Linked DNA regions of Homo sapiens: region 2 is linked to region 1. The links come from fine-mapping of genetic effects on gene expression. A gene starts in region 1. The other region holds a variant in brackets. All regions are shown on one strand. Distances are between the middles of the regions. Region 1 holds the start of UBAC1 (UBA domain containing 1). Region 2 has its middle 19 kb from the start of CAMSAP1-DT.

The links. PIP is the estimated chance that this variant, and not a neighbour inherited with it, causes the effect.
Region 2: its variant is fine-mapped to the expression of UBAC1 in whole blood (INTERVAL, PIP above 0.99).

What each region holds. Positions count from the first base shown.
Region 1 is chr9:135,959,760-135,962,657 of GRCh38, reverse strand. It overlaps UBAC1 (UBA domain containing 1), which reads left to right and starts at 1,285. Exons shown (of 10, transcript NM_016172.3): 1 at 1,285-1,633. The coding sequence starts at 1,496. RefSeq lists silencers at 1,136-1,545, 1,556-1,675 and an enhancer at 1,165-1,665.
Region 2 is chr9:135,925,013-135,927,910 of GRCh38, reverse strand. No RefSeq gene overlaps it. Among named protein-coding and RNA genes, the nearest start is that of CAMSAP1-DT, 19 kb to the right of the region's middle. RefSeq lists enhancers at 951-1,000, 2,037-2,116. The variant G/A (reference allele first, on the strand shown) is at 1,257.

The sequences.
Region 1 (2,898 bases):
GGTTGGAATTATCACAGGAGAAAAATGAGGATGTGTGTGCAAAATGGTGTGGACAGAATAAAAGCCTGCAGGCAGGAGGCAGAGACAGCCTCCCCGGTTAGATTGCTAACCTCTGAGAACGGGAACTGTGCCTTATTCATCTCTGCGCAGTAAAGTTTTTTTAAATGAATGGGATGAATGAGTACAGATCAGTCAATGTGTCAGGTCTAACCTGAACTACAAAATTCATATTTAGGAGCATGGTAAGTAAGACGTTATCCAGGACTGTTGAGCTAGGTACAGAGACCACTGCCAAGGGGGCTTGCAGTGGGGAGAGAGGTCAGGCTCAACTCCCAATACAGCAAGGGCAAGTGGGTGGGGTCAGTGAATGGAAAATTAATAGGAGAAAACATCAGGGATGTGGGCGGTTCTGGCTAAACCGACCTGACAGGGTTCTTGCTGAAGAGAGGCTGGAGATATCAGACAGCACCTGGGGGACGAGGAACCTGACCAGACGTCCAGGGTGATCTGATATTGAGGCTGGGAGTTCTTGCTAAACTCACTTATCAAGGCTCTTCGCTAAAACTGGATTTTACAAGGAAGTGTACAGATGATGTAGAAGGTTCAGGAGCCTGCTTAAGTTTGGCCAAGCAAAGACTCTTTGTCACACCCCACAGAAAATGAGTCTGCCTGGCATCACCTGCACCAAGGGCGGCTTCCCTCCCCTCTGGGTGCCCCGCAAACCTAGGCTTCGCAGGAACAGTGACTCTCTGATCTGCGTGTGAATTAGAAAGACCTAGGCTTGTTAAAGCCAAGTTCTTTGGAGAGCCTCCGTTCTACAGCAGTGCAGTGCAAAAGAAATATCACAGCAGCCATGTAGGCAATTTAAAATTCTATCTTAAAAAGGTTAAAAGAAACAGGTGAAATTAATTTTAATGACATATTTTTCTTAACTCAATAGATACAAAATATTATTTCAACATGTAATCAATATGAAAACATTATCGAGATGCCTTACATTCCTTTTTCCCGTTACTTCTTTGGGATCCAGCGTGTATTTTACCTTTAGAACCCATGAGGTCCCACGTGGTGAGTGCCCCGGGTGGGAACCGCCTGCAGCTCGGGGAGGAACGAAGCTACCAGAGAACTACAGCTCCCGGCATGCTCCGGGCGCGCCCCGTGACGCACTTCCTTTGCGGTGGCCACAGCGCGCCCCCGGCGGCGGGAGCGAGGCGCCTGTCCGAGAACCACATCTCCCGGCATGCGCCAGACGCGCCCGTGACGCACTTCCGGTGCGGCCGCGACGGCGCGCCCCCGGCGGCTGCTGCGGCGGCGGGAGCGAGGCGACCGCTGAGGCCGCGGAGAGTGACGGCGGCCCGGCCGACGGGAGCCGGGGCGGGGCGGCGGCCCAGCGAAGGAGCGCGCGGGCGGTCTGGCCCCGCCCCCTCCCCGCCCGCCTTCCCGGTGACCTTCAGGGGCCCGGGTGGCGGGCGCAGGCCCCTGCGGCGGCGGCGGGATGTTCGTGCAGGAGGAGAAGATCTTCGCGGGCAAGGTGCTGCGGCTGCACATCTGCGCGTCCGACGGCGCCGAGTGGCTGGAGGAGGCCACCGAGGACACCTCGGTGGAGAAGCTCAAGGAGCGCTGCCTCAAGCACGTAAGGCCGGGCCCCCTCCCCTGCCCCCAACACCCGCTCCGGACCCCTCCGACTGCGGACCCCGCCTCAGTCCCCGAACCGCCCCGACCTGGGGTCCGCCGCCCAGTCCGCAGCTCCCAGGCCCTCTCCTCCGGGGGTGGAGGCAGCGCCTCCTGCCCGTTTGCCCGACTCTCCCCCTTTCGGATCCCACACCTCTGGACGCTCGTCCCGGGCCTGGCCTTTCGGCCGGCGGACTCCGGTCACTAAGCGCTCGCCCCGTGCCAGCCGCCCGGCCGAGCCCTGTACACGCCAGCCTCTCAGTTAACTCTGCAGCCACGCAGGGAGGTAGGGGCAGATCGGGAAACTGAGGCCTGGAGAGTGAAGTCGCCGACGGAGCAGGGCCTCGGGACTTTCCGGCAGTTGTACCTTTTTGCTGTTGGGGTGAGGTTTTTTTTCAGCAGCATCTTTGAGAGCTGAGAATTAACGTAGGCTCCTTCATGAAGAGGCCCCTTCTCCTTCCTCTTCCCCTTTCCCGCAGAGCCGGCTGCTTGGAGCTCTTTTCCTGGCTGGCCCCAGGCCACTGTGCCTTTTAGCTGGAGTCCCTGAAATAGTGCCGCTGCGGGACAAGGCCCTGCGCCCCTGCTTTTCTGCAGAGGTAAAATTGGTCAAGAGAGAAGTCCCAGGAGTAGGGTCTCCTCGCGGAGACACTTTTTAAAGTTTATTCACCTGAAATACTCCTGTGTATTTAGTTCCTTAGGTTGCTGATTTTTGGAACTAGTTCTCGAGTCTCTAAAGGACTCAGTAAGGTCAGCTAAGAAGCCTGTCTGTGTGTCAGACTGACCTCCTGTCTATACCTGACATGATCTGAGGGCTTGGCAGAATTTAGGTTGAAGGAGGCTGCAATTTTCTAGTGGCGACTCCATGTGATAAGTTACGACGTATCTGTGTTGACAGGTTGAGTGCGTTACACTTGAGCTGAGTGTGGTCTCTAAGGATAAACTTCAGTTCTTACCATAGTAGCTGCTCGCATACAGTACTTTCGAGTTGCTTTTGTGAGCATGGTTCTGTGGAGTTCTGGAACTGTCAGAGGCAAGCTTGGCAAGCCCCCTTCTGGAACGCACTGGCTGTGAATAACTGGGAGGTGCTGGCCTCAGGATTCACACCAAGGAGGGGGCTGAGCCTCCTGCGTTCAAGGGCCGGTATGTTTTGGCTGCTTTCTTGCTTTTCTTCTGCCCCAGTCTGCATGATTTTGCCGTCTGAACAACCATCGGGGCATCACTAAGCTC
Region 2 (2,898 bases), 35 kb after region 1:
TGTGTGCATGCACAGGTGTGTGCATGTGTGCTGTGTGCATGCACAGGCGTGCATGTGTGTGCATGTGTGCTCTGCATGCATAGGCGTGCATGCGTGTATGCTGTGTGCATGCACAGGTTTGTGTGTGTGTGCGTGTGCTCTGCATGCACAGGTGTGCGTGTGTGTGCATGTGTGCTCTGTGTGCATGCACAGGCGTGCATGTGTGCGTGCGTGTGTCGTCCAGGGGAGCATCACGGGGAGGCCAGGCGTGTGCCCAGCTCCCCAAGCAAGGCCTCCTGGCTTCCCTTCCGGCTGTCCCGTGGCTCCTGTGTGGCCGGGGCCTCTGGTGTGGGCCGGCAGCTCTTGGCCCCCAATGGGGATGGAGCAGCTCCAGGGTGCCTGGGACCAGGCTGGCACTGCTGGCAGAGTCAGTAGGATGGGTGCAGCCCCTGGGGACAAGGACAGGAAGCAAGGGCAAAGGCACCTCCAGGACAGGCCAGGACAACTTCTTGGCTTCCACGCAGCCTTCCAGAGCAGGGCCACAATGCTGTCCCTGTTCCAGGCTTTGGAATGTCCTAGAGATGCTTCTCAGGTGGCCAGCCCTGAGTCCTGCACTGGAACCCAGAGAGGCAGGGCACATCCCCAAGGCCACATTGCCGTGGTCACAGAGCAGGTTAGGGCGCTGGGGGATCCCCGCCTGGCCTGCCCAGGAGAGAAAGGGCTCTCTGTGCGGCCCCGGTGCTCGAGTCCTGGAGGAGCCTGTGGCTGCAGGCTCTCAGATCTCCTCCCTTCGGGCGGGGTCTCTGGCACCTCTGCCTCTGACTCACTGGCCACCAATGGTGTCAGCAGAGGGAGCGGGAGTCCCCGGCTGCCTCAGCAAGGCCCTGTGGTGCCCGCCTGACTCTCAGGGCCTCTCGCTTTTGTTGTCCTGAGTCACCACCATCAGGAAGTCACACTGCCCTGAGGCGGCTGCGTTGCCAGGAAGCCTAGGCCACGTGGAGAGGCCACTCCAAGAGGCCACATGGATGTGCTCAGGGTGACAGCCAGAAGCGACCGCCACAGGTGGAAGTGAGGAACACACTGAAGGCCTCGCTGTGGTTGGGTCACCTGGCCGTTCTCTCCACGGCGAAGTGGAGACCACCATGGCACTGGGCCCTGCCTGGGTTCCCTTCCCGGGGCCCTTGAGTGCGGCACGATAAAGGCTGTGCGCAGCTGCCACACCTGGTGTCACTGGTCACTTGGAGTCACTGCAGCACCAGCTGAAGGAGAGAGGGTCC[G/A]GCTCAGCTGAGAGGCCGCTTCCCATCCAGTGACTGGAGGCAACTTTGTTGGAGAGTTTTCCAGCCTGAGACGGATGCAGGGGAATTTGGAGACTGGTCCCAGCCAGGGTGCATCCCAGGGTGTGGTGGGGGCTGCCCCAGTCGGCACGTCCCGCAGATCCTCACACCCTCTGGCCACTGAAGACCTCTGAGGCCAGCCTAAGGAGGGGCCTGCAGGGCTCTCCTTGTTTTTTTTCTTTGAGGCGGAGTCTCTGTCGCCCGGGCTGGAGTGCAGTGGCAAGATCTCGGCTCATTGCAACCTCCGCCTCCTGGGTTCATGCCATTCTCCTGCCTCAGCCTCCTGAGGAGCTGGGACTACAGGCGCCCAGCACCACACGCAGCTAATTTTTTTATTTCTAGTAAGACGGGGTTTCACCATGTTGGCCAGGCTGGTCTCGAACTCCTCATCTTGTGATCTGCCCACCTCAGCCTCCCAAAGTGCTAGAATTATAGGTGTGAGCCACCACAACCGGCCGTTGTTTTTAGGTTTTATGTATTTACTTTAGAGACGAGGTCTCGTTCTGTCACCCAGGCTGGAGTGCAGTGCAGCCATCACGGCTCATTGTAGCCCACAACTCCTGGGCTCAAGCATCCTCCCGCCTCAGCCTCCAGGGTAGCTGGGACTGCAGGTATGCACCACTGCGCACAGCTAGTTTTTAAATGTTCTCTAGAGACGGGGTCTTGCTGTGTTGCCCAGGCTGGTCTTGAACTTCTGGCCTCAAGCAATCCTGCCTCAGCCTCCCAAAGCACTGGGATTACAGGCATGAGCCACAGGGCCCGGCCTCTCAGTGCTTTCTGAGAATGAGCTGCTTTTCTCTTCCGCCCCCAGACCTGAACCTCAGTGTTCCTGGAAACTCCCACGCTTGCATTCTGATGCTGAATTAATCACCGTGTCCCCAGGTGGCTGCTCTTGCCAGCCAAGCACTGAGGCCTCCAAACTCAGTCCCAGGATGGCGGCGGTCGGACCCCACGCTTCCTTGGGGCTCGCTGAGGGAGGGGGTCTGACCCCACAGGCCCTACCCAGGAGTGAGTCCGGGGCCAGGGTGGCCCTCGCAGACAGCGGACACTCTCGCTGCTTCCCTCCTATCCAGGCTGGGCCCACCACTTCCATGATGTGGCTGCCCTCACCATTAATTGCTTAAACCTGGGAGACGGAGGTTGCAGTGAGCCGAGATCACGCCATTGCACTCCAGCCTGGGCAGCAAGAGTGAAACTCCATCCCCCACCCCCCCAAAAAAGAACAGCTCTACTAGGCTCTACCTGACATGCACCAAGCTGTGTGTGCGAGGTTCACAGGTTGGAGGCTCCTGAAACAAGTGGGCACCTGGGAAAGCATCAAAGTCAAGACCCCCAGCACGGGGGACCTGCAGCCGCCAGGCCACTGGTTGCACAATTCCTGAGCCGGCGGGTTTCTTTCGCCTTCTGTAGGTTCGACCTTGAAACTACAAGAGTGAATCTGAAAGTTAGTTCAAAAAGTCAAACGGGTTCACAGCAGCCAAGAGGTGGCGACAACACGAAGCCCATTGGTGGAGGAGTAGGGGGGCAACATGTGGTCACCCAGACAATGGGGTGTTCGGCACACGAGGAGGTGAGCCCTGACGCA